2 linked regions of the Homo sapiens genome follow. The main gene of each other region encodes a partner of the protein of the gene in region 2 in a complex. Each region holds a gene or a part of one and is shown on either strand. Other genes may lie near its edges. The genes, in order: FGF19 and KLB.

Region 1 (15,199 bases), on a different chromosome or scaffold from region 2:
CATCAGGGTTTTGCAGCTGCCAGGTCAGTAAAAATGTGGCCTGGAGAGCAAACATATTAACCATCAACAGTCTAGTGTGAATTAGTTTACGTACATTCACTTGTTATCCTCAGCTGTGCAGAAGGGAGAAGACTCCAGAGAGGGAGGTGCTGATAAGCCTCTTTCTTCATTTTCTCCCTGAAGTGCTGGTCTTCAGAGCACAAAGGATGGAATTTGAACTGGTTCCCTGCACACTAGAACCACAGGGGAGATTTTTTTTTTTTTTTGAGAAGGAGTCTTGCTCTGCCGCCCCGGCTGGAGGGCAGTGGTGCAATCTCGGCTCACTGCAAGCTCTGCCTCCCGGGTTCATGCCATTCTCCTGCCTCAGCCTCCCAAGTAGCTGGGACCACAGGCGCCTGCCACCATGCCTGGCTAATTTTTTGTATTTTTAGTAGAGATGGGGTTTCACTGTGTTAGCCAGGATGTTCTCAATCTCCTGACCTCATGATTCACCCACCTCGGCCTCCCAAAGTGCTGGGATTATAGGTGTGAGCCACCGCACCCGGCCCACAGGGGAGCTTTTAAAAAATCCCAGTGTCCAGACCACACCCATTCCCATTAAATCACAATCTCAGCTGGGCACGGTGGCTCATACCTATAATCTCAGCACTTTGGGAGGTTAAGGCAGGAGGACCTCTGGAGCCCAAGAGATCGAGACCAGCCTGTGCAACATAGCAAGACCCCATTGCTACAAATTAAAAAAAAAAAAATGAGCTGGGCATGGGTCTGTGGTCCCAGCTACTTGAGAGGCTGAGGCAGCAGGATCCCTTGAGCCCAGGAGGTCAAGACTGCAGTGATCAGTGATTGTGCACTGTACTCCAGCCTGGATGACAGAGTGAGACTGTCTAAAAAAAAAGAAAAAGAAAGAAAGAAAGAAAGAAAGAAAGAAAGAAAGAAAGAAAGAAAGAAAGAAAGAAAGAAAGAAAGACAAAAAACTCAGAATCTCCATGAGTGGTTTCCAGCTATCATCTTTTTTTCAATGTGCAGCCAAATTTGAGATCCAGTGGACATAATAGCTCAGGACACATGGTTCTATCCTTGGTGAGGTTTGCTGTGGATAGGCAGCCGGCTCTGTGCCAGGAATCCCGCAGACATCATTTCACTGGATTTCTGTATAGCCCTACCATGCAGACCCTGTTAACCTCATGTCCGCAGAAGGATGCAGGCTCAGAGGGGTGATGTGACTTACTCAAGGTCACACAGCAATCAAAGGGCCCTGCCCACAGCCCCTGAGCTGCCTCCAGGCTGTGTGGCTCCAGGAGAGTGCCTTTCCTGTCTGGCGCCTGCCACGGGTAGAGAAGGCTGTGTCCACAAGCATCATCCAGCCCTGCCTGTCAGCTCTCTAATCAGCATGGTTACATGACAAGGACACCAAAGAGTGAGAGGGGCATCTTGATTGGCAGATGGAGACAGGGAACGCCCCAAGGGTTAACTCTAGATGTCCTGGGCATGTCATCAGTGAGAATGACAAGTGGAGGTCCCTTTTACTGGAGAGCAGGGAGGCTTCACCTGAAATAGCCTTCGTAGACTTGAACAACGACATTACCCCCCTCGCTGCCAACGTAAGCACCTGGGAACTACTGCCCTGAGTGACCCAACCCTCCTCCCCGACTCCCTCCACCATCCCTAATCCCTGGCAAATGCTCATTTGGAATCATGTTTCATGCACACGTTGGTGTCCGGTTGCACCTGCTCCTCCTTGCACTCAGGATGTGGCCCACATCTGGTCACCCTGACCGCTAATTCTTGCCTTCCCAGCCTGCCGTGCAGCTGGGGCTGGCCTGGTCCTGTGACGCAAACCTGGTTCTTAGGATGTAGCCGGAATTTGCTGAAAGGTTCTAAGGAAGTTTTGGCTTTCTTGATGAGAGAGGCCCAGCCCGAAATGATTCCCTCTCCCTGAGTACAGGGCGCTCAGCTGAAGCCACAGCAGCCCTGGCGAGACGAGGCCCCAGCAGGACAGGGACACCAAGGGAATCACACAGGGCACAGCCCAGGCATCGCTGGGTCACTGGGTCCCTCTGGATTTGTGGCTGGACAAAAAGAAATCCTATTTGCTCCGGTCAGTGGTCCTCCGTTAAGGGTGATCTTGCCTCCTAAGAACATGCAACAACTTCTGGAGGTATTTTGGTTGTCACAACTTGAGGGTTTCTACAGGCATCTAATGGTGGGGGGTGGGGGGGGCACTGTTAAATGCAGGAACGTCTTTCCCCAGGGAAGAGTGCTGAGGGCGAGAGGCCCTCACTTAGGCCGCTGTTCCTTGGTGTTTGTTTCCTGCAGCCAAAAACACTCCTGGCAGAGAGGCCGCCCTAACCACTGAGACTGCTAGAGAGAAGGTGGACTGAGGAAGCCAAGCCCCTAGGCATGAGGAAAGGGCAGGACAGCAGGGCCCAAACCAGCCTCCACCACTAGAGCTGGCTGGCCCAAACCCGCTAACTTCCCACCCGAGCTTTTGGTGTCCAGGGCAGACACACCGAGGGTTTCCTCCCGTGGACGGTGCTGCCCCCCACCAGCCCCTTCCCCACCCTCCCTAACATTCTAGGCGGATAATAGAATGCACCTTTTGATACAAACAAACTCCATTTTAATATACAAAACAAACCTCACTTACATACATAAATATAATTTGGGGGCATAAATAATGTAAGAAAATAAGAGATGTACATATCAAAATAAATTACTCATAAATATCATGTTGGAAAACCAAGTGCTGGGGAAAGGGTTCTAGGTCTTCCCCCGCTGCTTCCACACAGCAAGTTATTGACAAGACTTGGGGTCTTCAAATCTTTTCTTTTCCTGATTTTTGAACAAGAAGTGCAGGTTGACATAAGGTGGGGGGCCTGGGAGGCCCCAATCCATGGGGAGGCATGTGAGGTGGGCAGAGGGCTGGTGGGCTGGGAGATGGAAGCAGGTGACACCGGGACAGCAAGTTATTCTCAGGACAGCATCCATGACAGAACTGGCCTCAGGGGGAATTCTCAAGTTGTCCCAGGGCTGGAGTGGGGCTCCAGGCTTCCCCTACTCCTGAAGCCTGGTGGGCCATGCCTGCTCCAGTCAGTTCTGGCCTGGAGGGATTTGGGAAGGGCAAATGGTCCCTGGAAGTAGAGATATAGATCAATTCCCACATGGGGTTGAGTGAAATTTACCTGCTGTTTTACAGAGTGGATCACCTGTTCCTGAAATTAAAACTACTGCCTGTCTTCTGGCTGCTCCTGGGGAAGTGATGAGAAAAAATTAGAGAATTTCAGCTTGACATAAGAATTTTTCCAAAGGAAGTGAGTTCCCCATCGATGGAGGTATTCAAGCAGAACTGAGACAGTGCAGCAGCTTGTCCAGCAACCTCGAGGGAGCAGAATGGGGGCCCAGGCAGCAGCTGGGCAAGCTACAGGCTTACAATGTTATGATCAGACAAGTCTATTGGCTAGAAACTGGCACTGCCAATGGAAAACTCTGAATATGTACAACTTCTAGATGTTTCTTCCTAAAGCTAAACAGAACGTGGACTCAGGACTGTTCTTGTAGAAGCACGTCCCCCACGCTGCAGGTACCACAGCCCCTGGCAGCAGTGAAGAGGCCCGGGCATGGTCTCAGTTACTTCTCAAAGCTGGGACTCCTCACGGCCTCCAGTCCGGTGACAAGCCCAAATGGGTCCATGCTGTCGGTCTCCAGGGGCGAAGAGAACATGTCAGATTCCAAGTGGCCCCTGAGGTCCTCAGGCTCCTCTGGGACCATGGGCAGCATGGGCAGGAAATGAGAGAGTGGAAGAAAGCCTCTGTTCTTGTACAGCTGCCGCTGTTTGGCACTGCTCAGGGAGACCGGGAGGCGGTGCTTCTCGGATCGGTACACATTGTAGCCATCTGGGCGGATCTCCTCCTCGAAAGCACAGTCTTCCTCCGAGTACTGAAGCTGCAGAGAAAACAGGCAGCTCTGAGCAATCCACAGTGGACAGGGAACACGGGTCCACATGGACGTTTGTGCTACAGACTGTCCCTGGTGGCCACCAGCAGTGACCTTCCACATAAGCATCACTTGCATGTTTTATACATACTTCCTGATGTACACACTGTACGTGTAAGTATATATAAAATATACCTTTATATATGTAAGTATATATAATATATAATGTACTTTAAGGCCAGGCACAGTAGGTCACACCTGTAGTCCCAGCACTTTGGGAGGCCCAGAGCAGATGGATCACCTGAATCCAGGAGTTTGAGACCAGCCTGGGCAACATGGTAAAATTCCATCTTGACAAAAAGTACAAACATTAGCAGGTCATGGAGGTGGGCGCCTGTAGGCCCAGCTATTCGGGAGGCTGAGAGGTGGGAGGATGGGTTGAGGCTGGGTAGTCAAGGCTGCACTGAGCAATGATCATGCCACTGCACTCTAGTCTGGGTGATAGAGCAAGACCCTGTCTCAAAAAAAAACAAAACAAAAAACCCACAACTATATATATACACAGAGAACACACACACATATATAAATGTACTGTAAGTGTAAGCATATATAATATGTACATTATGTTAATATATAACCCATTAATAAATTAAATATACATTTATATACCTTTATAAATTATAATCTTTATATAGATATACATGCACACAGACAAAACTGAGGTTTATTATTTCATATATGTATATTTTATGTATATACTTAATACTACATATACACTCTATATAGACCCAAATAATTTCCACTAAATTACCTCACTTTTTCGAGAGCCTTGTCCTAAGCAATAATATCCATCAACCCACAGGAATGCCGTCTGTGTTTCCCTCACCCTTTACATTACAGACATAACTCCTGGCATTTAAAAAGTTCCTGGGTATTTCATTGGCACTTTGGGAAACACTGATAAACTGGGTTGTCATCTTAGGATAGGTCTTTTAAATAAATTGCGTGTGATCCGATCTGGGTCCCAGATGAAAGCATCTGTTCCCCACCTATCTCAGAAATCACTGTGTGCCTTTATCATTCTAAGGCCTTCTGGTCTGCAGCAGTTCTGAGAACCATCAGCCCCGCTGTCTCCTCCATTCAGTCACCAAGGGCCTTCCAGGCAGGCTGCCAGGAGGCAGATCTCAGCAGCCCCTCCCCCAGGCCAGGCCAGGCCAGGCCGGCGCCCAGCTGGTGGCCGGAAATGTGTGCTGAGGGAAGCCTTGTCTTAGAACATTCATAGTCCACGGGGTTGAGAGGTGCCAGTGGGCAAGTGCCATCCCACACCGGTGTCATTACCCCTTGGCGACCCAGGACAGGCGCAGGCGGGAGCCGGAAGGGCTGGGCAGTAAACACACTGCAGGACGGCCTCAGTCAGGTTCCTGCCTAAGTCTGCAAAGGTCACTGAACTGCAGGTGGGTGACGAGGTACCTGTGCTAATAAGCTCCTGATAAGAGGCTCATTGCAGCAACCCAGGCTCCTGCCGAGCCCACGGATGGCTGGGACAAAGCATCGGACAGCAAGCGTGATTTCTCCCAAACTCCCAAAAATGCCAAATGATCAATAAACAAGGAACACAAAACCGAATGATTGGAGGACCTTCTTCTATTTACTTGGCTTGTCCTTTGGGAGAAATTAGTATCACTTTCTCCATACAGAAAACGAAATGACTTCAAGTTTCTAGAAGAATGTGGCATTTTTATTTAAGAAAGAGGCCAGGCGAGGTGGCTCATGCCTGTAATCCCAGCACTTTGGGCGGCTGAGGCAGGCAGATCGTGATGTCAGGAGTTCGAGACCAGCCTGGCCAGGATGGTGAAACCTCATCTCTACTAAAAATACAAAAAAACTAGCCGGTCATGGTGGCACGGTGCCCGTAATCCCAGCTACTTGGGAGGCTGAGGCAGGAGAATTGCTTGAACCCCGCAGGTGGAGGTTGCAGTGAGCCAAGATCATACCACTGTACTCCAGCCTGGGCGACAGAGCAAGCGAGACTCCGTCTCAAAAAAAAAAAAAAAAAAAAAAAGATCCTCAATTTCTGTTAGACCATGCACAGGGGATCAAGAGGCACAAAGGGGGCTGGGCGCGGTGGCTCACACCTCTAATCCCAAAGCACTTTGGGAGGCCGAGACGGCCGGATCACTTGAGGTCGGGAGTTCAAGACCAGCCTGGCCACCAACATGGTGAAACCCCATCTCTACCCAAAATACAAAAGGTAGCTGGGCTTGGTGGTGGGTACCTGTAATCCCAGCTCCATGGGAGGCTGAGGTAGCAGAAACGCTTGAACCTGGGAGGCACAGGTTGCAGTGAGCCGAGATCTGGCCACTGCATTCCAGCCTGGGCGACAGAGCAAGACTCTGCCAAAAAAAAAAAAAAAAAAAAAAAAAAAAGGCACAGAGGGATTTCAGGTGACCCAACCCCCAATTTGGGCAGAATGGCGGGTTAGGTTGACGTCCCCTGCTGGCCTCCCATCATTAGGAACCCCCACACCCCCTGCCATAGTAAATGTCAAAATTAAAGTTGCAAGGGTGGGTTTGGAGCGGCTCTGGGTGGGAGTCAGCGTCCAGCGTGCCGACCACCCCCTTTCTCTGCAGTCCTCTCACGCAGGACTCCGCCATAAAACCTGAAACAGGCGCTCCGAGTACACGGAGCACGGCAGAGGCACCGAGCAATTTTGAGACTCTAAAATGCTTTGTCCCGCTGTTCACAAAGGAGCTGGTTGGGCCGGAGGCGGCCCCGCCTCTGCATCCTTTCTGGGGTGGGGGCCCCGGGCAGGCGCGGCCACCCCCGCCCTGGCCCCTGCTCCGCCAGGGAGTCCGGGGCTGCGTGTGAGGCCTGCGCGGGCCGAGACCTCACACAGCCTCCTCTGCGCGCGGGGCCGCGGGAGGGGCGCGGGTTCGTTCCTTTGAACTCCCAGCCTTTGTTCCCGGCCACCAGAGCCCCAGCGCTCGTACACTTCCGGCCCCGGGACCTCTGCGGTTACCTGGGCCTTCCCTGCCAGCCCCCACCCCCTGCCCCCACCAGAAAGCGTTTACAGGACAGGTGAGGCCCGCAGGAGGAAAAGCACTCCCCTGGCGCAACATGACTCCAGCGCATCTGCGTCTAAGCCACACCGTGCTCCTGGTAGATTAAAAATTAATTCTAAAAAAAAAATCTCTCCTATCCCAAATGCACTGTTTTCTGCCTTGCTTGACAATTGATTTGTTTTTAAAGGAAAGTTATGGGTAGATCCTCTTTTTTCTTTCCCATTCTTTTTTTCTTCTTTTATACTGGAGGGAGGGAAACGGAGGCGAGGACCACACACGCGCAGGCAGAGGCTGAAAAGGCCCGAGGTGGGTTTTCCTGTTTAATATCAAAGGAGGCCGAATAATGGGTTTCCTCGGTCCGGCTAGGCCGGCCTTTGACTCAATTGGAAATGCAAAGGCAGCTTTTGCCTATTCTCTGGCTGCTGGCTGAGACCCTAAATTTCCGTAGGAAATCGTCGGACATGCACTTAATCGGTCTTTGCAATCTTTCCCTCGAAGTTGCACGCGGGTCTGGGCGGAGGAGGCGAGGAAACCCTGGATTCGAACCAGCGCCTTTCTCTCCTTCAGGCCTCCGCCCGGGGACAGGCGCCGGTCCCCCGCCCCGGCGCATCCGCCCCGTGGGGACACTTACCAGCCCCTGCATCTTGCCGTCGGCGCCCATGCAGAGGTACCGCACGCTGTGCACGCCCTTGATGGCCACGGTCCGCAGAGCGACTGCCTTGATCTCCAGCAAACCTAGGCGCAGGGGAAGCGAGAAGCTGCAGCAAGGACCGCTGGGCCCGCACCACGTGGGTGCGGTCGGTCCACAAGCCTGTGCTTCTCCCTAGCGTCCCGCGCTGTTTGGGGACTAACGGAGGGATCCTAACGTCCAGGTGCCAAAACCTGGGGTTCCCAGGAGTTGAGGGGTCCGCAGGAGCCTAAGGGTGGCAAAGGAAGGAAGGGCGCTGGGGTGGGGCGCGCGCAGCGGGGTGGGGTGCGCGCGGCGGGGCGGGCGGGGGTGCTGGCGGGCACTCACTGTGCGCGCTCTGGCCCCGCGCGCAGTCCACGACGCCGTCGGCACGGATGCGCAGGAAGCAGCTGGAGAGCCCGTGGGGGCCGGAGGTGTACAGGTGCCGCAGGCGGATGGGGTCGCCCCAGCCGTAGTGCACGTGGGGCCCCGCGTCCGAGAAGGCGAGGGGGCGCCCGGCCACGGCCAGCCAGAGGCCGGCCAGGATCCATACGTGGACCACCACACACCCGCTCCGCATGGCACCTCCCTGGGGCTCTCGGCGCAGCTCCGGCGATGGGGGTGCGGGAGGCTGGGCGGCGACCGGGATGCGCTGCGGGGCTGTGAGTGCCGGGTTGGGATGGTCGTGGCCCTAGATCCTGGACGCAGCGCTCCTGCTCTGACGGCGCGGCGGCTCCGGGCCGGCAGCCTTATATAGTAGCGCCTTACGGGCCCCACGGGTAGGTGCCCAAGACACCCGAGCATTTCTTATCGGGATTGCATCAAGCCTCCGCCCCCCGCACACACCCACTCACACCCCGCCTCCGGCCCCAGCCCCAGCCCCCTCCCCGGGCCCGGGCAGGCAGGCGGCGGCTTCTTGTCCCAGCCGGGGTGACCCCGCCCAGGCCGTTCGGATCTGCGGGAGGAGGAGGCCTCGCTTAGCGGCCGGGTTTCGGGGAACTCCTCCCCACCGCGCAGCGGCCCCGAGGTTCTTGGCTGGGAGAGTTTGACTTTGTAAAGCAATCGACAACTGGGGCCCTTCCCCCAGGCCTCAGGCTCCCAGTGGATGCACTCGGCGTGGGGCACTAGCGGGGGCGGGGTCAGGAACCCCGGGGCCAGAGGTTGGGGGGCACCGAGTTTTGCCCCCTTCACCCTCTGTCGGGAAAAGCCTCACCTCGGCCTTAGTGCCCTTCCCCTTAAAAGCCCACTCGCACTCCCTCCCCCGACTTTCGCAGCCCCGCACATCTGACGTCAAAGCCGTCCCGTAGAATTTTCCCCGGCAGTTCCGACAGTCTCAGGTTCTTTCAGCTTCATCTTCTTGCAATTCCTGCCCCGCCCCTTTTATCCGGGTAAATTGCCCCCCGACGGGGGGCCGGGCGCGCTCTCGGCCGGCGGGGAAACAATGGAAGCCGCGCGGACTGTAGGTGGCGCCGCAGCCTCGGCGTCCGCCTGGGCTTTGCGCTCCTGGCCCCGCGCCCCTGCCTGCTCCGCGCTCGCCCCGGCCCCGCGGCTGTGCGCGAGATGCAACCTGAAAGGGGGCACTGGGAAGGAGGCTCTCGGGCAGGGTGGGCGGGCCAGCTGCGGGATTGGTGAACCCCAGCTTCTCGGCTGGAGGGTGGTGGAGGCAGGGGCGCAGGGAGGGAGGCCTGGGCCTCCGTTTCCCGTTTTTTGAGCTGTCTTGTGTCGGGGGTCTGGTTTTTGAGTCCCCGAGTCCCTGCGCACGGGGTCAGGAGGAACAGCACGGTCGGGGAGGTCGAGAGCGCCTTACCTGGTGGGGAGGGGTCGGGAAGGGGCCCAGGAACGGTGATGGGCGCCCCTGGCGTCCGGGCAGGTGCCAGGTGAGGAAAGAAATGGGGGCCGCTCCATGAAGCGGTTCCTGCCAATAAAGAAAACGACATCCAGAGAATACCCAGGCGGGGAATAAAGGGGTCCTCCTACGGGGCTTTGGTTTAACTCTAATTATTTCTTGTTATTCTTCCAAACCCCCAGCTCCTGGATGTGGGGCCCCAGGAGGCTGGTTTTGGGGGCAGAGCCCTCCTGGCCCAGCGCAAAGGCGATGGGGAGGGCAAACAGGAGAGACAGCGAGAGAAATGCCAGGCCTAATGAATTTCAATGAGCAGAGGCCACATTCATTCCCCAGTCAGTGACTGGCGTTAATGACTGAGGGCGCAGCAAATGTCACCAGGAAAGTCTTTACAAAAAGACATCATCCCGAAGGCTTTCTAGACCAGGGACCCCCACGCTGTGTGTCTTGGTTCAGAAAGCCGTGGCTTCTGTTAAATCTAATTACTTCCCCCCTGTGGCTTTAAATCGACGGCGGCTCCTATTAAACTTAATTACCCTCCCCTGCAGCTTTCGTTTTAAAGATCCGTGGTAAATGCGTGATAAATGCTCTTGAGGGCGATGGCAGAGGCTGCACTGGGGGACACGACCCAAACCGGGTGGGGGCGATGGCAGCCTCTGGTTCCACCCCTACCCCTCTGCAGCCCCTTCCAGGGACATGGGGAAGAGAGTGGCTGATGCGATCAGGGAGGTGGGGAAATGAGGAAGGCGGCTGCTGTCCCCCAGCCCCTGTTCTGAGCGCTTCATGGAGGTTCTCAGCTCAAATCTCCACAAGAGCCCCCACAGTATTCTATTCCTCCCTCCCCCATGGAGCAGGAGGGAAATGGCCCCAGAAAAGTGGCCGAGTAACCCAAGGTCGCACACTCTGTTAGTGGTGAAGTTGGAATTTGAACCCAAACAGTGGGGCTCGTAAATCCAGGCTGTGCTGCGTCTTATCCCGGGACAGGGGCTCCGGGGTCAGACCCACTGTAGCATGGATCACACCCGGCCACTCCCTGGGTAGGTCGTGGACCGCTGACCCATTGCCCTCTCAGCTTGCTCTCAGGCTTGTCCTGAGGGTGACAAGGAAGAGGGGACAGAGAGGGCCTGGGATGTAGCACTCATGAAGGTGTTGATGGCAGGCCTTGAGGTCAGCTGTGTGCCGGCCATCTCACAGGCACAGCAATGCTCTGAGAGCTTAGGGGATGGATCCTGCTCATGTGAGGTAGCTGACGGTTACAGAGATGGACTGCCGGGCCTCGAGGGTTTGCCCCAGGTGGGCCAGGCACACGATCTTGGGTGTTTGCTGGGCTCCCTGGTGTGTGTGGTTAGAGGGAGCCAAGCCTGCAGAGGACAAGGCAGTGCTGGCCAGCAAGGGGCTCTCCTGGCGAGAGCAGAGGTGTGGCAAGGGCTGAGGTCCTCCTCCCACTCTGTTCTGTGCACACCGGGACCTCTGAAGCCACCTGTGTGCTGCATTGGGCTGACTTTGCTTTTCAGGTTGTGTTTGATTTGCCCCTGGGTGGCTAAGCCGGCTGAATCGCCCAGGTGGGGTTTCATTCATTGAATGGCATGGGCAATGGGTAGCAGGTAGGGTCCAAGGCACCTGGATGTCCCGCTCACCCATGCAGGGGTATGGGGGTCTCCAGCCCAGGTGTCCAGAAGGGCTTGGCTTGGCTTTGTTCTGGATTTGATGTTAGCTTTTTTTTTTTAATTCATTTTTTATTTTTTTATTTAATTGCCCTGTAGAACCGTAAATCCTTTTTCTGGAGTCTTCCTTCTTCCATCTGAGGGTGTAGAGGTTCCTTCTTCCTGATTATGGCAAATGAGTGATTTCCACCATTTCTAAACCCGTGTCCCAGTGTCTAAGAACATCTTATTCGGCTTCACCTCCAATTTTTACATTATGAAAATCATAGTTTTCCTTTCATTTTACAGTTAGAAATGTATGTTTTGCTGTCAAATGTGCATTCTTCTACATAAGCACTCCCTAGAGCCCCTCCCAAACCCCCTGCTCCCACCTTGTGATTGAAAATTATTTTGTAATTGGAGAAACTTCTGGGTGTGGTAAAAGTCTTTATCAGAAAATAAGAACTGCAGGGTAGCGTGGGACCGAGAGAGCTGTGAACACTGAGGTGATCGAGGCCACGCCCCACAGCTGGTTCCTGGCCAACTGGAGGCTGAGACCCAGGGACTCCTGAATCTCAGCCCAGTATTTTTGCTACAACCTGCTAGAACATGCATTATTTCCCCCAAGACTTTCTGATTCACCAACAGCCATTTCTTCCCCCATACGCATCGTTATTCTGAAATGAGGCCACCCAGCTAGCCCAGAAATTGGCAGAGACTGTGACAGAGTAGAAGGAAGACCTCTTTGAGATTCCATTTCCTCATTTGTAAAACAGCAAAAGGAACGCTAATTTACAGGGTTAATACGAGCATTAGAAAAGACATCCCCATCTATCAAGTGACCAATATTTGTAAGATAGAGACAGCCTGGCACATGTAAAGCACATAACAGAAGGGTAGCTATTGTTACTGTTGTAAATGCTGCTCTCTGGCGATCTTTGCTACATTTATTACTTATTTTAAAATTTAATGGCAACTCTAGAAAAAGATATATAGTGACAAAAAGCTGGATGGAGATCCACTAGAAAAGGGTAAATAGAAGGCTGGGCGTGGTGGCTCATGCCTGTAATCCCAGCACTTTGGGAGGCCAACGCAGGAGCATTGCTTGAACCCAGGAGGCAGAGGTTGCAGTGAGCCGAGATCGCACCACTGTACTCCAGCCTGGGCAACAGAGAGAGACTCTGTCTCAAAAAAAAAAAAAAAAAAAAAAAAAAAAAAAAAGCAGAGAAGGATAAATGGAAGATGAAAATGTTCTCTATCTTTATTGTGGTAGTGAATACACAGGCAATGACATTTATCAAAACTAATAGAGCTGTTCCCTTAAAATTAAGGTGCATTTTTTTCAGAGCAATTTCTATTAAATTCTAAAGTAAATTGTGTCTGAATTTTAAATAAGCATTAATAGATACTTTTTTTCCAGTTGTTTTATTGTGTTGAAACATAAACAACATAAAATTTACCATCCTAACCATTTCTAAATGTACAGTTCAGAGGAATTAATACATTCATAAAGCTGTGTGGATCACCGCCACCATCCATCTCCAGAACTCTTTTCATCTTGAAAAATGAGATTCAGCTGGGTGCGGTGGCTCACTCCTGTAATCCCAGCACTTTGGGAGGCCAAGGTGGGTGGATCACCTGAGGTCAGGAGTTCAAGACCAGCCTGGCCAACATGGTGAAACCCCATCTCTACTAAAAATACAAAAATTAGCTGGGTGTGGTGGCGCATGCTTGCAGTCCCAGCTGCTGTGGAGGCTGAGGTGGAAGGATCGCTTGAACCCAGGGAGCGGAGGTTGCAGTGAGCCAAGATCACACCGCTGCACTCCAACCTGGGCAACAGAGTGATACTGAAAAATAAATAATAATAAAAAAAGTATGTATGTATCTTAAAAAAAAATCATTTGAATTGTAACCTCCTTTCCACCAACTCAGTTGTAAACACTTTCCTTGGGATTAAATATCCTAGCACAGCCTTTGACACCAGCACATCTGAGTGATACAATCTGTTGTCCCCTATTGCTGGACGTTTAGGTTGTTTCCAACGTCCCCTGCCAGACCATGCAGGGGAGAACATTCTTGGAGACGCATCTCGCGCATGTCCGCTCTTGGAATTACTGAGCCCTGTCGTCTCTCCCCCAGGTAGGCCCTGGCCCTGTGTAAAGGGTGGAATTCAGGAAGCTGCCCTGCTTCTGTTCACACAAAGGGCAGCACAGCTTCCTCCAGACATCTGCGGTGAGCCTGAGCACACATGGATGTTCTCAGCTCAAATCTCCGCAAGAGCCCCCATGGTATTCTATTCCCCCTTCCCCATGGAGCAGGAGGGAAATGGGGGCCCCAGAAAAGTGGCCGAGTGACCCAAGGTCGCACACCCTGTTAGTGGTGAAGTTGGAATTTGAACCCAAACAGTGGGGCTTGTAAATCCAGGCTGTGCTGTGTCTTATCCCGGGACAGGGGCTCCTGGTGTGTAAGCACCACCACCAGCAGGCACCATGAGGCATAGCAAAGCTGGAGTCGGAGCCCTCCCTTTACTGCCGGTTCAGAAGGCCCAGGACGTGAGCTCCCCTAGCTGGGAGGGCCTGCTTGTGCTGTGAGCCTTACTTTTCTCACCTGTGAGGACAGGAGCTGACAGAAGTAGCCACAAAGGGTATTTCTGTACGTGAATGCTCTTTTCCCTCTGGTCTCCCTCATCAAAACAGATATGAGTTCCCATCGCGAATGTGTTGAGCTGTCAGAGTAGCAACGTCGTGAAAGAATGCGCCCAGGCTTTGAATGTCAGCTACTGAAAGAAAACAAAAAGTAGCTTAATGAGAAAACATTAACCGTGTTCATGCTGACTTCGTGAAAAACCATAAAGTGAAAATATCGAGGTTGGAAATTCTCAGAAGCCCTGGCCTCTGTCTGCTTCATAAACCTTTCGTGGAGAAGGATGAGTCCCAGACTCCACAAGTGGATGGCTCTTCAAACTTCATGCCCAAAGGGAGGGTCTTTTCTCTCCAAAAGCTCAGCCACCTTTCCACAATGTCTTTTTTCTTTCTTCTGTCCGAGATGGTTAGGAAATCCCAGGACAGGCCTGGCCAGCACCATTTGCTGAGTGCTTGAAATCCTCTGGCCATGGTGGTGGTGGTAGTGATGGCTGACACCAAGTGCCCAGAACTGTCCTGGGCAGTTTACATGCCTCACGGTATTTGGGTCTCATAGCTCCCATTCTAAAGAGGGGCAAAGTGAGGCTCAGAAACTGCTCCTTGCCCAGAGTCACAAATAAAGCCAATAAACAGCAGAGTTGGGATTTGAATGCAGTTCTAGCTGAATTTGAGTCACAAAGCTATTTAATCATTACTCTCTTTTTATTTTTTTAAAAAAGAAGCAAAACCAGGCCAGGTACAGTGGCTCACATCTGTAATCCCAACATTTTGGGAGGCCAAGGCAGGTGGATCACTTGAGCCCAGGAGTTCAAGACCAGCCCGGGGGACATGGCGAAACTCCATTTCTACAGAAAATACAAAAATTAGTCGGGCGTGGTGGCGTGAGTCTGTAGTCCCAGCTACTTGTGATGCTGAGGTGGAAGGATCACTTGAGCCTGGGAGGCAGAGGTTGCAGTGAGCTGTGATCCACCACTGAAAAAAAAAAAAAAAAAAAAAAGGAAAACCCAAACAGCTGCTCTTTCAAAAAGTTAAGAGCCCTGACCAAATTCGGAGCCTCAGCTAGGGGCTTGGCCCTACTCTTCGATTCCTTGGCCCCATGACCTGCCCATGTGCTTCCCAGAGTGGTCACTGGAGACCCTGGGCTGACTCTAGCAAGATAGCCAGAGAGCCCCCACTTCTGAGTGCAGCCCTCAGCTCCGCCTGCTCTGCTGTGTGGTACCTGGACGTCATGTCTTGGGGTGGAAATTGACCCTACATGTCTCCTCTTCAGACAAAGCTCTGTGGAAGTGAGGATACAAGTGCGCAGTTTGCGGGCATGACCCTGGTGTCCTGCACGGAGCCAGCCTGGCACTTGACGCTGCCAAGAAATATTGGATGAATCATTTAAAAGAACTGGAAGGGCCGGGCAC
Region 2 (15,739 bases):
GTCCTTGTTCTTTGTGCTTCATGTCTTTAACCAGTTGTCTACTATAGAATAAGTCAGTGGTTTTCAAAGGTGGAGTGAGGGGGAGGAATTTTGACTTCCTGGGGACATTTGGCAAGGTCTGGAGACATTTTTGATTGTCACAACACTGAAAATGGGGGAGCTACTGTCATCTAGTGAGTAGAGTTTAGATGCTGCTGAACTCCTCCATTGCACAGGACAGCCTACCACAGCAAAGAATTATCTGACCCCAAATGTCAATAGTGACCAGGTTTGAGAAATCTTTGTACTATGTAAACAGTATTTATCTATGAAAGATAACATTTTCCCCCTAACCCAATGTGACTAGTAAAAGACAAAGATTTTTAAAGTCATGAAATGGTCAAAACTGTCATGAAAGCTGGCAGTATTTTTTGTTTTATTTTATTTTATTTTATTTATTTTTTTTTTTTCCTGAGACAGGTTTTTGCTGTGTCACCCAGGCTGGAGTGCAGTGGCACAATCATAGCTCCTTGCAGCCTTGACCTCCCGGGCTTAAGTGATCTTCCCACCTCATCCTCCCAAGTAGCTGGGACTACAGGTATGTGCCACCACTCTCAGCTGATTTTTTATTTTTTGTAGAGACAAGGTTTGTCTTGTCTCTACAAAACTATGTTGCTCAGGTTAGTCTTGAACTCCTGGGCTCAAGGGATCTTCTTCCCTCGGTTTCCCAAAGTGCTAGGATTACAGGCAGGAGCAACTCTGCCCCGCTTTGGCAATATTTAGTGGAGTAATAAACAGAATGAGTTATTGTCTCATGAGCAAATTCACCTTCCCAAACCTCTGTGCATGTTTACTCAGAGACTCTCAAATGTTCCATTCTAAAAGGGAAATGTACAAATTTAAATTATTACATGTATTTATTGATTTAAAAATAGAATGAAAACAGACATTACTGCCTTTACTAATGTGAACCCTTGGGGCTTTGCTGCATAGGCCAAATACATTTCTGGGATTGAAAAAACTAAACTTGGGAGAGAGAAATCTTTCCTCTACAAAGGAGAAGATGACACAACCCGAGGAAGAAATGGACGTGAGAGGCTGAAATAAAGGGCCTTCCTGGTCACTGAGCCCATTCATCCCTGTGGTCTGGTTACTGAGCCAGGAAATTGCCCCTTTTTGCTTTAGCCAATTTGAATTAGATTTCTGTAACTTGCCACCAAAAAAGTCCTGACTAATATACCACCCGATTAATATCAGTAATATTTCGACAGTTTGCAATAATGCAATGAAATATGAAGATTGAACTTGAGATTAGTTTTTGATTACAGTATTTAAGACAGAAATCCTAAACCATTCATTTAACCAACATTTACACCTAATATGTACAAATATTCTGTGCTAGGTGCTGAGAACATAAAGGCAAATTTAAAAATTGTCTCTCCTTTGAAAGAACTCTCAGTCTAGCTGGGGAGATGGAAAAGTATCATGTCGTATGAGTGCTATGCTAGAAACAAGCCCATCTTATGGGAGCCAGCAGAAGGGGCACTTAAATCCTAAAGGGGCAAGAATGACTTGGAGGCAGTGACCATCACGAAGTAAAGAGGGCATTTGAGCTAGACAGAGTGGGATAGTTGAGGCTGGGTGGAGAGAAATAGTAAGGAGAGACTGAGACACTGGCAGTAGTGTGTTATGATCGAATATGAAGTGCAAGAGGATGGGAGAGTGGCCAGGAAGGAGGCTGGGAACTGTATCTCAAAGGTCTTGGTGAAAAATTGAGACTTTATCCCCAAAGCTTGGGGGGGCCACTAATGGATTTTACACAGGGGAGCAATATCACGCATATTCAAAATATCACACTGTAAGATGAGGATAATAGTTACCTGGCAAGATTGTTGTAAAGAGTATAGATAATATTTATTTATTTATGTCCTTTTGGAATGTAAATGTTCATAATATTTCTCTTTTTAAAAATATTTTTAAAATTTCAATAGTTTTGGGGTACAAGTGGTTTTTGGTTACACGGATGAATTGTATAACGGTGAAGTCTGAGATTTTAGTGTACTCATCACCAGAGGAGTATACATTGTATCCAATATGCAGTTTTTTTATCCCTTACTCCTCTCCCAGCTTCCCTGTTCTGAGTCTCCAAAGTTGATTATATCCTTCTGTATGTAGGTATATATCATTCTGTATATATAGTCCATTGTATCATTCTTATATAGTGGGAGCTAAGCTATGGGTATGCAGATGCATACATAAGCTCAGTATACCCATAGCTTAGCTCCCACTATATGAGAGAACATATGGCATTTGGTTTTCCATTCCTGAGTTACTTCACTTAGAATACATAGATATTATTTCTTTTTTCTTTAAATAGAGAAGGGGGTCTTGCTATGTTGCCCAGGTTGGTCTCAAACTCATAGGCTCTGGGATTACAGGTATGAGCCACCATGCCAGGCCTAGAGATGATATTTAAAGTGATGATTACCGTGCTTAAAAATGGCCAAGCCAGGGCCAGGAGCAGTGGCTCACACCTGTAATCCCAGCTACTCGGGAGGCTGAGGCGGGAGAATCGCTTGAATCCGGGAGGCGGAGGTTGCAGTGAGCTGAGATCGAGCCACTGCACGCCAGCCTGGGTGACAGAGTGAGACTCTGTCTTAAAAAAAAAAAAATGGCCAAGCCAAAAAATACATCCTCATTCTATTTCAAATGCTGTTAAAAACAGCTTTGACGGGAGACTGAGGCAGGAGAATGGCGTGAACCTGGGAGGCGGAGCTTGCAGTGAGCCGAGATAGCGCCACTGCACTCCAGCCTGGGCGACAGAGCAAGACTCCGTCTCAAAAAAAAAAAAAAAAAAAATCAAAACAAAACAAAACAAAACAAAAAAAACCTTAGTTTTGAGGCCGGGCGCTGTGGGTCGGGAGTTCCAGACCAGCCTGACCAACATGGAGAAACCCCGTCTCTACTAAAAGTACAAAAAATTACCCAGGCGTGGTGGCACTTGCCTGTAATCCCAGCGACTCGGGAGGCTGAGGCTCCCGCTTGAACCCGGGAGGCGGAGGTTGCAGTGAGCCAAGATTGTGCCACTGCACTCCAGGCTGGGCAACAAGAACGAAAACTCCGTCTCAAAACAAAACAAAACAAAAACAAAAACTTAGAGTTGGTTCATCCATTAGTAGGTGTGATTATGGAAAATTTTTACCTGAGTCTTAGACCCGCATTAAGGTACTCCCTACATCTGCAATAAAGTGGAATCTAAATTGCAAGTCAGCCTTGGGACCCTCTGGACCATTCAGGTTTCCTCCAAATGGGAACATTTCAAACCGAGATGGAGTTTTCCAGATCATTCTGGAACGAAAAGGACCCCAATAGCCACTATGAAACCTTTTCTCTATCTGAGAAGTGGGGAATGAAGGGGTCCATACCCCCCCAGAATTCAGTTTTATATTAGGCTTGTGTAGCTCAATAAATGTTTTCGGTCTAAAAACTATTCCTAAAGAATGCTTCTTCTGGGTCACAAGGGGGCAGGAGAAGGAAGAAATACTTCATTGCAACGTAAAATATCAAATTAATGTTTTCTACGTGAAAGTCAAGACAGCGAGGGGACAAGTGGGAAAAACAAGTTCACCTCAGGCTACCAAATCATTGCAAGATTTCTTTAGTGCTATACGTCACTGGGTCATGCAGTGTATTTCACTTTCTGACTGATTTCAAGGACCCCTCACACCATTTATTTAGTCTAGTGATTTAGAACTTTTAAGGCAATACAAACATTATTTGGAAAACACAATAGTTGAAAAACATATCCCTCCATTTAAAATAATAAAATTTATCTCACGATCATAAAGTGCTAATTTTGTGTTAAAGGCAGAGAATATCTCAAATTAGAGGAAAATGAAAACATCTGAAAATATGTCATTTTATCAACTATGTTTGGAAGCAATATCTGTTAAAGCTTTTTGCCTGTTTATTCTTATCAGCCAATTTTAAGGCTTTAATCCTTAAAATACATTTTCATGAAAACTCTAATTGTTGACATTTTTCCAGGTAATGACTTTTCAACAATTTAGAATATTTTTCTTTATACAAAGGTTAAATAAACATATTCATGCATGTATTTGCATAGAAAACTTTAAAAAGAATGTATAAGAAACTATTAACAGTAGCGTCCTTGGCCTGGGATTGTCAGGTGAAGAGAGGGAGAGGGATTTAACTTTTTCACTTTAGATCCTTTGGTACAATGTGATATTTTTATTTTTTATTTATTATTTTTTTGAGACAGAGTTTCACTCTCGCCCAGGCTGGAGTGCAGTGGCGTGATCTCGGCTCACTGTAACCTCTGCCTCCCGGGTTCAAGGGATTCTCCTGCCTCAGCCTCCCGAGTAACTGGGACTATAGGCACGTGCCACGACGCCCAGTTAATTTTTGTGTTTTCAGTAGAGAGGGTTTCACTATGTTGGCGAGGCTGGTCTCAAACTCCTGATCTTGTGATCCACCTGCCTTGGCCTCCCAAAGTGCTGGGATTACAGGCATGAGGCACTGTGCCCGGCCCAATCTGATATTTTTAAATGTACATGAGCATGAATTGTTTTAAAAATTAAAAGGACTGGCTGAGCGCAGTGGCTCACACCTGTAATCCCAGCACTTTGGGAGGCTGAGGCAGGTGGATCATGAGGTCAGGAGTTGGAGACCAGCCTGGCCAACATAGTGAAACCCCTCTCTACTAAAAACACAAAAATTAACTGGGCTGGTGGCATGTGCCTGTAGTACCAGTTACTCAAGAGGCTGAGGCAGGAGAATTGCTTGAACCTGGGAGGTGGAGATTGCAGTGAGCCAAGACTGCGCCATTGCACTCCAGCCTGGGTGACAGAGTGAGACTTTGTCTCAAAAAAAAAAAAAAAGAAAATTAAAAGGACTAAATGAGAGGAATATTTTTCTAACTTTTGTATGCATAATCTTGATAACTGTTAAATACCTATACAATTTCTACCCTTTAAGGTCTTATTTTGTCAAATCACAGTATACCCACACATTAATATGTTCTATATACAACTCTAGTCAAAGATATGCAAATGACCTTGAAATCATAATGCAATCTGTTTACCTCAAGGGCAGATGTATCTGAAACCATAGTACAATGCACATGTGTAATAATCCAGAAAAGTTCAAAAAGAAAAGAAGTGATAGCAGATATTTTTGTATGTACAAATTTAGACATGGAATTATTTTATGTTGCTGTATTTTTTTTCTACTTCTGTATATTTAGCTTTTGATTATTAATAATTAAATTACTTTTTGTAGCACATTATAAAATTATATTGATAAAGTTTTTTCATTTTTAAAATGTAACAGGTGTGCAGAATAATTTATTTTTCCTAAGTAAACTATTTGACTCAAAAAGTTAAATTCGATTCTAGATATTAGCCTCAATGTGAGGCTAAATCTCTTGCAAATTCCTGAGTCTTCTTTTCAAAGCATTCTTAATGAAGACAGTTAGTGTTAATTATGTTGTCATTTAAAAAATCCATGTCCACAACAGCTGTATTTTACTCCTTAACCTTGGGAAAATTATTTAATCTCATTAAGCTTCAGTTTCCTCATCTTTTAAATGGGAAGAATAATAAAACTAGTTCAAAAGGCTGTTAAGAGGATCAACTGTAACGATGCATGTAAAATACTTAATGTAGTCTGTGGTACATAATAAGTACTCAGTAATTATTACCTATTATTTTGCTTGTATTTTCACTATTGTTTTACTAATTTTAACATTTCTCAACATTATCTCTAGCTTTTGAAATATATTGCTTGAAAATTGCTTTAGTAGAGCACATTCTTCCCAGTTCTTATGGGAAGAAATGTGTTTAGCTCCCATAACAATTAATCTTCTCTTTTTTGCTATGTAACACAAATAAAATCAAAAGTGAAGTATATTTAAATTTCTGTATTTAATATGCATGAGTTAGCTAACATTTATTTGGCTTACTTATTTACTTACTTTATTTACTTATTAGCTAAGTTAGCTATACTTAACAACAAATACATATTTGAAATGGTTGTGCCTTAAGATAATTCTGAAATGATTGCATGTTGTCAGAAAAGGGTTCCAACAATTAAATTTATGAAGCACTGTTTTCCCACAGAATGAAAGTAAGCTCATATATTCACACTGTAGTGTATAATGGTAGATTTAAAAATAGCCTCAAAGTGCAACTTTTGAAAAAACTAATTGGATTAATACATTAAAAATACCTTAGATAAATAAAACATACACTAACTTAAATGCAAAATTTGAGGATAGATCTTTTGAATTAGCTTAAAATCAGTTGCCTTGATTTCAGTGAAGAGAATTACTGAGGCAGAAGGTAAATTCTTAAATTCTTAGTGTTTTCTGAAGCTATAAGAAGAAGCTAGCTGTACAGTACCTTGATCAAGTTGTGTCCCACAGTGTAGACAGCTGCTAAATTTCCCTTCTCTCCAGGGGCATGCATACCTGTCCCATACCCATGCCAAGCCACTAGATATGGGTTGTGAATTGTAATCCAATATTTGACACGGTCCCCAAACATCTGGAAACAGTATGTGGCATAGTCATTGAAGATATCTATTATGGTATCATTTTTCCACCCCCCATATTTTTCTTGTAGTGCCAAAGGCAAATCCCAGTGGTATAAAGTAACTATAGGTTCAATGTTTCTAAGCACTAGAGCGTCCAGAAGAGTACTGTAGTACTGCAGACCTTTTGCGTTGGCAACTGTTACTATTCCATCGGGGAAAAGCCTTGGCCAGGAAATTGAAAATTGATAAAAAGAAACTCCTATAAAATCCAGGGCTGATAAGTCTTTTTCCAGAAAAATATAACTGTCACTGGAACCATTCGTGCTGCTGACATTTTTAAGGTGTGTGTGGATGAAATGATCCCATATAGAAGGTCCTTTTCCATCCTTCTTCCAACTCCCTTCCACTTGCAATGCTCCAGTCCCAATACCCCAGAAAAAGTTTTTAGGGAAAGTGTCATAGAGAAACAGCTGACTTTCATTTACCGGAGTAAAATTAGGATTTTTAGACCATATAGCTCTTCCATCTCCAGAGAATCCAGTAACAGCTCGTAGCAGAATAAGTGCTGACAGGATGACAGATCTTTGCAATCCCCCGTTGGACATTGTATTCCTATAGCGTGTGGTTATTTCATCAGTGCTGAAGAAAATCCATTCATTCCCTGGAGATCCTGCCGCACAGCCTGGCTTCATTTGCCACCAACTGCTGGACTGTCTTATCAAAGCTTCAGTAAAAGCTTGTGATTGTAAAGCTCTGTCAATGATTAGCTTGAACTGGGAGACTGAGGATGGGTCATAGAGAGCAACGTAATTTGAGGGAGGTGGCCCTATTGCAGTCACCAACGCGTCTCCTTCTCTCTCATTATGGAAAAAATTAGATGAAAATGCATCGGTGACAAGAGTTTGAATGTGTAACTAACACATATGTAAACACTGGATTAAAATCACATTATTTTCCGTGTAGCCTTTCATATTGACCCAAATCTTTTCTGAATGTTTTGAACATTATTGAATAAGGTATATAGCTTTTCTATTTTTAGAGTTTTTGTGTGGTAATTTTATAATCTCATATATCAAGAAAAATAACATATACAAGTATATAGCATTCCTACATACCAATAGTAAAGAATTAGAAAACACAATAAGAAATTACACTTCTCCACAAAATTATAACGCATCTAAGAACAATCTTAATAAATGTTACCTATTTTAGGAAAATTGCAAAAATGTATTGGTAGATTTGAGAGAAGACTTGAATGAGAAAATATAGCACTTTGTGGATGGAAAAATGAAATACTTTTCAATTTAATACATTTAACTTAACTAAAATCCTCTAATCTCTAATTTTATTTTTTATTTTATTTATTTAACTTAACTAAAATTCTCTAATCTCTAATTTTTTAATTAATTAATTAATTTTTAATAAGAGTCTTGCTTTGTAGCCTAGGCTGGAGTGCAGTGGTGTCATCACAGCTCACCGCAGCCTCAACTTCCCAGGCTTAAGCAATCCTCCCTCCTCAGCCTCCAAGTAGCTGGGACAACAGGCACATGCCACCATGCCCAGCTGATTTTTGATTTTTTGGTAGAGGTGGGGTCTAGCTATGTCCCCCAGGCTGGTCCTGAACTCCTGGGCTCAAACAGCCCTTCTGCCTCGGCCTCCTAAAGTGCTTGGGATTATAGGTGTGAGCCACCATGCCTGGCCTAATCCCAAATTTTAGTTCAAGAAAATTATTACGAAAGGCCAGGCACAGTGATTCATGGCTATAATCCCACCACTTTGGGAGGCCAAGGCAGGCAGATCACTTGGGGTCAGGAGTTTGAGACCAGCCTAGCCAACATGTTGAAACCCCGTCTCTATTAAAAATACAATTAGCTGGGCACGGTGGTGGGCACCTGTAATCCCAGCTACCTGGGAGGCTGAGGCAGGAGAATCTCTTGAACCTGGGACGTGGAGGTTGTAGTGAGCTGAGATCGCACCACCGCACTCCAGCCTGGGCAACAGAGCAAGACTCGGTCTCAAAATAAAAAAAAAAAAAAAAAGAGAAAATTATTATGAAAGTTCCCTTGAAGAATAGGCAATATTTATTTTTAAAAAGGAAAGAAAAACCTGAAAAAGAAAATAGCAAAGGCATAGACTACCTTCAGCATGATTCTGGAATAAAGATAAACATACAGAAAGAAATACATGCACATACAGAAAGAAATATTGTACCAAATCGATAGCCTCCAAATAACCTGTAAAAAATTTAATGTTTTACAGCCTGGGGAACATAATAAGGCCCCATCTCTACAAAAAAAATTAAAAACTAACCGGGTGTGGTTGTGCATGCCTGTAGTCCCAGCACTTTAGAAGGCCAAGGTGGGAGGATTGCTTTGAGCCCAAGAGGTCAAGACTGTAGTGAGCCATGATTGCACCACTGCACTCCAGCCTGGGTGACAGAATGAGACTCTGTCTCAAAAAATAATAAATAAATAAATAAATAAATGTTTTAAATATTTGAAGTATCACATATGAATGAGAAGCAGAGTGGTTAATAGTTTGGTCTCTGTGCCAGATGAGGTGGCTCACACCTATAATCCCAGCTACTTAGGAGGCTAAGTGGGGAGGACTGCTTGAGGCCAGGAGTTTTGAGACCAGCCTGGGCAATATAGTGAGACTATCCTCACCTCTAAAAAAAGATGATTGAGGCCCGGCACAGTGGTTCGCACCTGTAATCCCAGCACTTTGGGAGTCCGAGGCGGCTGGATCACCTGAGATCAGGAGTTCGAGACCAGCCTGACCAACATGGTGAAACCCCATCTCTACTAAAAATACAAAATTAGCTGGGCATGGTGGCACATGCCTGTAATCCCAGTTACTCGGGAGGCTGAGGCAGAAGAATTGCCTGATCCCGGGAGGTGGAGGTTGCAGTGAGCCGAGATCGCGCCATTGCACTCCAGCCTAGGCAACAAGAGCAAAACTCTGTCTAAAAAAAAAAAAAAAAAAAAAAAAAAAAAAAAAAAAAAAAGAGAGATTGAGCCTCTAGAGGCAGACTGCCTGAGTTTAAATATAGCTGTGTAACTTGCCCTCAGTTTCCTCTTTAAGAAAAGGCATAATAATAATATGCACTTCATGGATTATTGTGAGAATTAAACGAGTTAATACACTGAACCAAATGGTTTTCTCTGGAATATAGAAACGAATGAGCCAGTACATGTAAGGCACTTGGAACAGAGACTGACACATAGTAAGTTATGTGCTAATATTATTTTTGTGTGAAAGGGAAAGATTATTCAGGACATGATGCCAGGATTTAGCATAAAAGACAATTTGTTCTGGCTCCTGCCCACATTTTTAGCTTCACTTCTCTCAGTTGACTAAGGGGTACACAGCCTGCTAACTTGTAGCCCTGTACCTTGGTATGTGTGCTCTCTGCACAGAGTATGTTTCTCCCTTCATCTAGCTCATGTCTATCTTTTTTTTTTTTTTTTTTTGAGACGGAGTCTCACTCTGTCTGCCAGGCTGGAGTGCAGTGGCGGGATCTCGGCTCACTGCAAGCTCCGCCTCCCAGGTTCACTCCATTCTCCTGCCTCAGCCTCCTGAGTAGCTGGGACTACCGGCGCCCGCCACCACGCCTGGCTAGTTTTTTGTATTTTTAGTAGAGACGGGGTTTCACCGTGTTAGCCAGGATGGTCTCGATCTCCTAACCTCGTGATCCGACCGTCTCGGCCTCCCAAAGTGCTGGGATTACAGGCGTGAGCCACAGCGCCCGGCCGTCTTTTTTTTTTTTTTTTTTTTTTTAACTTTTAAGTTCAGGGACACGTGCAAGTTTGTTACATACGTAAACTTGTGTTATGGGTGTTTGCTGTATGGATTATTTCAGCAGGCAGGTATTAAGCCTAGTACTCATTAGTTTTTTTTTCCTGATCCTCTCCTTCTTCCGACCCTCCACCCTCTGATAGGCCCCAGTGTGTTATTTCCCTCTATGTGTCCAGGTGTTCTCATCATTTAGCTCCCACTTATAAGTGAGAACCTGCGGTATTTGGTCTTCTGTTCCTGCATTAGTAAGGCCTTTCTGACTCCCTATGACTCCCTAGCCTGATTGGATTTAGATGGATCTTCTGTTTTCCCATGGCAGCCCATGTTTTCTCTATTATGACACACAATAAATCAGCTAACCACACAATAAATGTATCTGTATCCTCTGTTTGAGTGTAAGTTTTCTCTCTCTCTCTCTGTTTCTCTCTCTCTCTCTCTTTTTTAAAAACCAAAACAGGGACCATGATTGGTTCCCTGTTGATTGTCTGTGGCCCAGCATGGTACTTGACATATAGCAGTCACTAAAGTATTTACTGAATGAATGAGAGTATCTATAGTAGGCTGGGCATGAGGGCCCACACCTGTAATCCCTGCACTTTGGGAGGCTGAGGCAGGAGGATCGCTTGAGTTCAGGTGTTCAAGACTAGCCTGGGCAACATAGTGAGAATTCATCTCTACTAAGAAAAAAAAAGTAGCTATAGTAGACTATGTATACCTCTATCACTGCATTTATCACATAATCCTGGAGTTGTTTGTCTCCTCCACCACACTGTAAGAATATCTCCTATCTAAATGTTTATAATTGCTTATCAGAGTAAATGATTAATAATTATCTATTGAATGAATGGAGTTGGTACATTACTATTTATGAAAATAAAATTTTAAATGCAATATCTTAGATCCTCACAAATATATTTAATTCAAAAATGTATAACCACAGAAATGGTTAAGATGGTACATTTCATATTACTTGATTTTACCACAATTTAAAAAATATAGCCACAGAAAATTAAAGAAAACAGAAGTAAATATTAAATTATGTAAATGTGTAGATTATATATATTATTCTATTTACATATGATGATATATAAATAATTTATAATTAAAATATAAAAAATAAAATTTAAAGGCAAATAACAAACTTGGAAAATGTCAAAGCAAATCTAGAAGGCAAATGGCCAAAGTAAGGCAAATGGCCATAAGTAATTCATGCAAATCAACAAGAAAGCCACTAAATCTCTAACAGATAAATGGCCAAACAACATGAATTTAAAAATACACAAAAGAGGAAATGCAACTAGTGAAAAATGTGGCTAATAAAAAATTAAACCATGAGTAATTAGAAACATACATAAAAAGAGGTATATAATATTTAATCTTTTTTTTTTTTTTTTTTGAGATGGAGTCTTGATCTGTCACCCAGGCTGGAGTGCAGTGGCACGATCTAGGCTCACTGCAACCTCTACCTCCCAGGTTCAAGTGATTCTCCTGCCTCAGCCTCCCGAGTAGCTGGGATTACAGGTGTCTGCCACCACTCCCGGCTAAGTTTTGTATTTTTAGTAGAGACAGGGTTTCACCATGTTGGCCAGGCTGGTCTCGAACTCCTGACCTCAGGTGATCTGCCTGCCTTGGCCTCCCAAAGTGCTGGGATTACAGGCATGAGCCACCGTGCCTGGTCAATATTTTATCTTATAAAATTAGCAAAAATAAAAATGATAAGTGATGAAAACCAGTGTTGATTAGATTGTTGATTGCAATGTAAGTTTGCACAATACTCATGAAAAGTATATATGTGTGTGTATGTATATATATATATATATATATATATTTTTTTTTTTTTTTTTTTTTTTTTTTTAAAGATAGAGTGTTGCTCTGTCGCCCAGGCTGGAATGCAGTGACGTGATCTCAGCTCACTTCAACCTCTGGCTCCTGGGTTCAACCAATTCTCCTGCCTCAGCCTCTCAAGTAGCTGGGATTATTTAAACGCATACCATCACAGTTGGCTATTTTTGTTTGTTTGTTTTTGAGACAGAGTCTCGCTCTGTCACCCAGGCTGGAATGCAGTGACGTGATCTCGGCTCACTGCAACCTCCACCTCCCAGGTTCAAGTGATTCTCCTGCCTCAGGAGAATTGTTATATTTTTAGTAGAGATGGGATTTCACTGTGTTGGCCAGGCTGGTTTTGAACACCTGACCTCAAGTGATCCACCTGCTTCAGCCCCCCAAAGTACTGGGATTACAAGCCTGAGCCACTGTGTCCGACCACATGGAAAGTAATTTTCCAATATACCATGAACCTAAAATTTTTTGATTCAAGAATTTCTGAAATATATTGTAATGAATTGTTTCTAAATATATAAAGTCCTCCATGCAAAAATATTTTTATAGCAATATTATTTATAACAGAGGAAAATTATAAATAATTTAAAGATCCATCTATAGGGGAATACTTATCTAAGGCATGGAATATTCATTTGAATATTCATGAAATGTTGTAGAGTCAGTAACATTTTCAGAGAATATATAGTAGCATTAAAATACTTAAAAAACCATTAGAACAATAACCACATATAGAAATTATAAGAAAATGCCCACATTTTGCCATATTGTGTTTGGACGGTGAGCTAAGGGTTATAGTTATTTTTCTTCTTTTGTATATTTAATCTGATTTTTTAACTTTTAATAACAAAAATGGGCCAGTGCAGTGGCTCATGCCTGTAATCCCAGCACTTTGGGAAGCTGAGGCAGGTGGATCACCTGAGGTTGGGAGTTCGAGACCAGCCTGGCCAACATGGTGAGACCCCCCCATCTCTACTAAAAATACAAAAATTAGCCAGGCATGGTGGTGTGCACCTGTAGTCCCAGCTACTTGGGAGGCTGAGGCAGAAGAATCGTTTGAACCTTGGAGGCAGAGGTTGCAGTGAGCTGAGATCGTGCCGCTGCATTCCAGCCTGGACGACAGAGTGAGACTCTGTCTCAAAACAACAACAACAACAAAACCCAAAAATGAACATTAAAAGAATACAAATAGTTGATATTAGATGTAAAAGTTTATTGAAACCCAGGCGTGGCGGTGTACACTTATAGTCCTAGCTACTTGGGAGGCTTAGGCAAGAGGATTGTATGAGCAAGGAGTTCGAGGCTTTAGTGCAGTATAATTGCGCCTGTGACTCGCCACGGCACTCCAGCCTGGACAACATAGTAAGACCTTGCCTCTTAAAAATAAAGTCTATTGGAGAAACTAGATACTTTCCTACTAAGATTAGGAATAAGACAAGGATGTCTGTTCTCATCACCTCTATTCAACATTACGCTGGAAGTTGTAGCTAATGCAGTAAAACAACAGCAACAAAAGAAATAAAACATACAGAAAGGGAAGCAACGAACAAAACTGTGTTTGTTCACAGATGATAATGATTGTCTATGTAAAAACTTCTAAAGAACCAACCAAAGAATCCTGGCACTAATAAGTGATTACAGCAAGGATGCAAGATACAAGATTTTTTTTTTTTGGTAAAAACAAAATGTGTTTTTTTTAATTAAAAAGTATGAAGTCTGCCACTAAACTCTCGAAGCAACCCTTTTTTCTAATCCCCTTCTTGTGTCAAAGAATGTGTTGCAGTTGATTACTTTGTGGTGGTTTCCAAATGGGCAGGTGGCAAGTTCTCTTGGATTTCAGCTTCTACAGTTATCCAAAATCAGCGTCAGCTGAGCTATGCTCCCTCTGAAGGCTCTGAGGGAGAACCCTTCCTTGAGTCTTCTGGTGGCTCTTGACATTCTTTGGCTTGTGGCAACATGATTTTAATTTCTGCTTGTTTCACATGGCGTTTTTTTAGACAGAGTCTTGCTCTGTCGCCCAGGCTGGAGTGCAGTGGCATGATCTCAGCTCGCTGCAACCTCCACCTCCCAGGTTCATGCCATTCTCCTGCCTCAGCCTCCCGAGTAGCTGGGACTACAGGTGCATGCTACCACACCTGGCTAATTTTTTGTATTTTTAGTAAAGACGGGGTTTCACCATGTTAGCCACGATGGTCTCGAACTCCTGACCTCCTGATCTGCTTGCCTCGGCCTCCCAAAGTGCTGGGATTACAGGTGTGAGACACCACGCCTGGCCTTTTTTTTTTTTTTTTTTTTTTTTGAGATGAAGTCTTGCTCTGTTGCCCAGGCTGGAGTCTGGAGTGCAGTGGCACAATCTCAGTTCACTGCAACCACCATATCCCAGGTTCAAGCGATTCTCCTGCTGCAGCCTCCCGAGCAGCTGGGACTCAGGCATGAGCCACCATGCCTAGCTAATTTTTATTTTTAGTAGAGATGGGGCTTCACCATGTTGGCCAGGCTGGTCTCCAACTCCTGACTTCAGGTGATCCACCTGCCTTGGCCTTCCAAAGTGCCGGGATTATAGGCGTGAGTCACTGTGGCTGGCCTCACATGGCCTTCTTTGTGTCTTTTCCTCTTCTTGTTTTTCCTTTTTCTTTCTTTTTTTTTTCTTCAGAGAAAGGGTGTCACTCTTGCCCAAGCTGAAGACAAATAAAGAATGCTTCACAAATCTTTTTTTTTTTTTCAGAGATAGGGTGTCACTCTTGCCCAAGCTGAAGACACATAAAGAATGCTTCACAACTCTATCCTTGCACAGAGGCTATGCTAATCTTCTCTGTATCATTCCAATTTTAGTAAATCTGTTTCCAAAGTGAGCACAAGATGCAGGATTAATACACAAGAGTCAATTGTTTTCTTATATGCCAGCAATGAACGATTGAAATTTGAAATTAAAAAGACAAAATCCAGTCTGGATAACATGGTGAGACCCCACCTCTACAAAAAATAAAAATAAAAAATTAGCTGGACATGGTGGTGCACACTTGCGGTCCTATCTACTAGGGAGGCTAAAGTGGGAGGATCACTTGAGCCTGGGAAGTTGAGGCTGCAGTGAGCCATGACTGTGCCACCAAACTCCAGCCTGGGTGACAGAGTGAGATTTTCTCAAAAAAGGAAAAAAAGAAGCTTCTCAACAAAGGCTAAGTTTTAAAATATGTACTCTAGCTGGGCGAGGTGGCTCATGCCTGTAATCCCAGCACTTTGGGAGGCCGAGGGGAGTGGATCATGAGATCAGGAGTTCAAGACTAGCCTGGCCAATATGGTGAAACCCCATCTCTACTAAAAATATAAAAATTAGCTGGGCGTGGTGGCGTGCACCTGTAGTCCTAGCTACTTGGGAGGCTGAGGCAGAAGAATTGCTTGAATCGGGAGGTGGAGGTTGCAGTAAGCAGAGATTGTACCATTGCACTCCAGCCTGGGTGACAGAGCAAGACTCTGTCTCCAAAAAAAAAAAAAAAAAAAAAAAAAAAAGTGTACTCTAGGACTGAAGTAACTTTTCCTTAAAAAAGAAAAGGAATAAAAATAAAGTGTA

What was found.
Region 1: the proteins of KLB (region 2) and FGF19 are in contact, whole or in part, in a crystal structure (PDB 6NFJ), measured with the Homo sapiens proteins. Residues at the interface, in NP_783864.1 of Homo sapiens: Phe379, Lys380, Val392, Leu394, Trp419, Phe420, Thr421, Asp422, Val425, Thr431, Tyr434, Met435, Asn438, Tyr643, Glu693, Arg696, His743, Asn824, Phe826, Met832, Gln848, Phe849, Leu850, Gln851, Ile853, Leu862, Phe931, Phe942; in NP_005108.1 of Homo sapiens: Leu192, Thr194, Asp195, Ser196, Met197, Pro199, Phe200, Leu202, Val203, Thr204, Ser211, Pro212, Ser213.

The regions. Positions count from the first base shown.
Region 1 is NC_000011.10:69,695,635-69,710,833, forward strand, and holds FGF19 (fibroblast growth factor 19 precursor), read right to left. Parts: upstream 8,389-15,199; 5' UTR 8,243-8,388; coding exon 8,011-8,242; intron 7,731-8,010; coding exon 7,627-7,730; intron 3,943-7,626; coding exon 3,628-3,942; 3' UTR 2,604-3,627; downstream 1-2,603. UniProt on the Homo sapiens protein: Involved in the suppression of bile acid biosynthesis through down-regulation of CYP7A1 expression, following positive regulation of the JNK and ERK1/2 cascades. Stimulates glucose uptake in adipocytes. Activity requires the presence of KLB and FGFR4.
Region 2 is NC_000004.12:39,398,437-39,414,175, reverse strand, and holds the start of KLB (beta-klotho), read right to left. Parts: upstream 7,247-15,739; 5' UTR 7,227-7,246; coding exon 6,402-7,226; intron 2,267-6,401; exon of another isoform or gene 2,202-2,266; intron 1-2,201.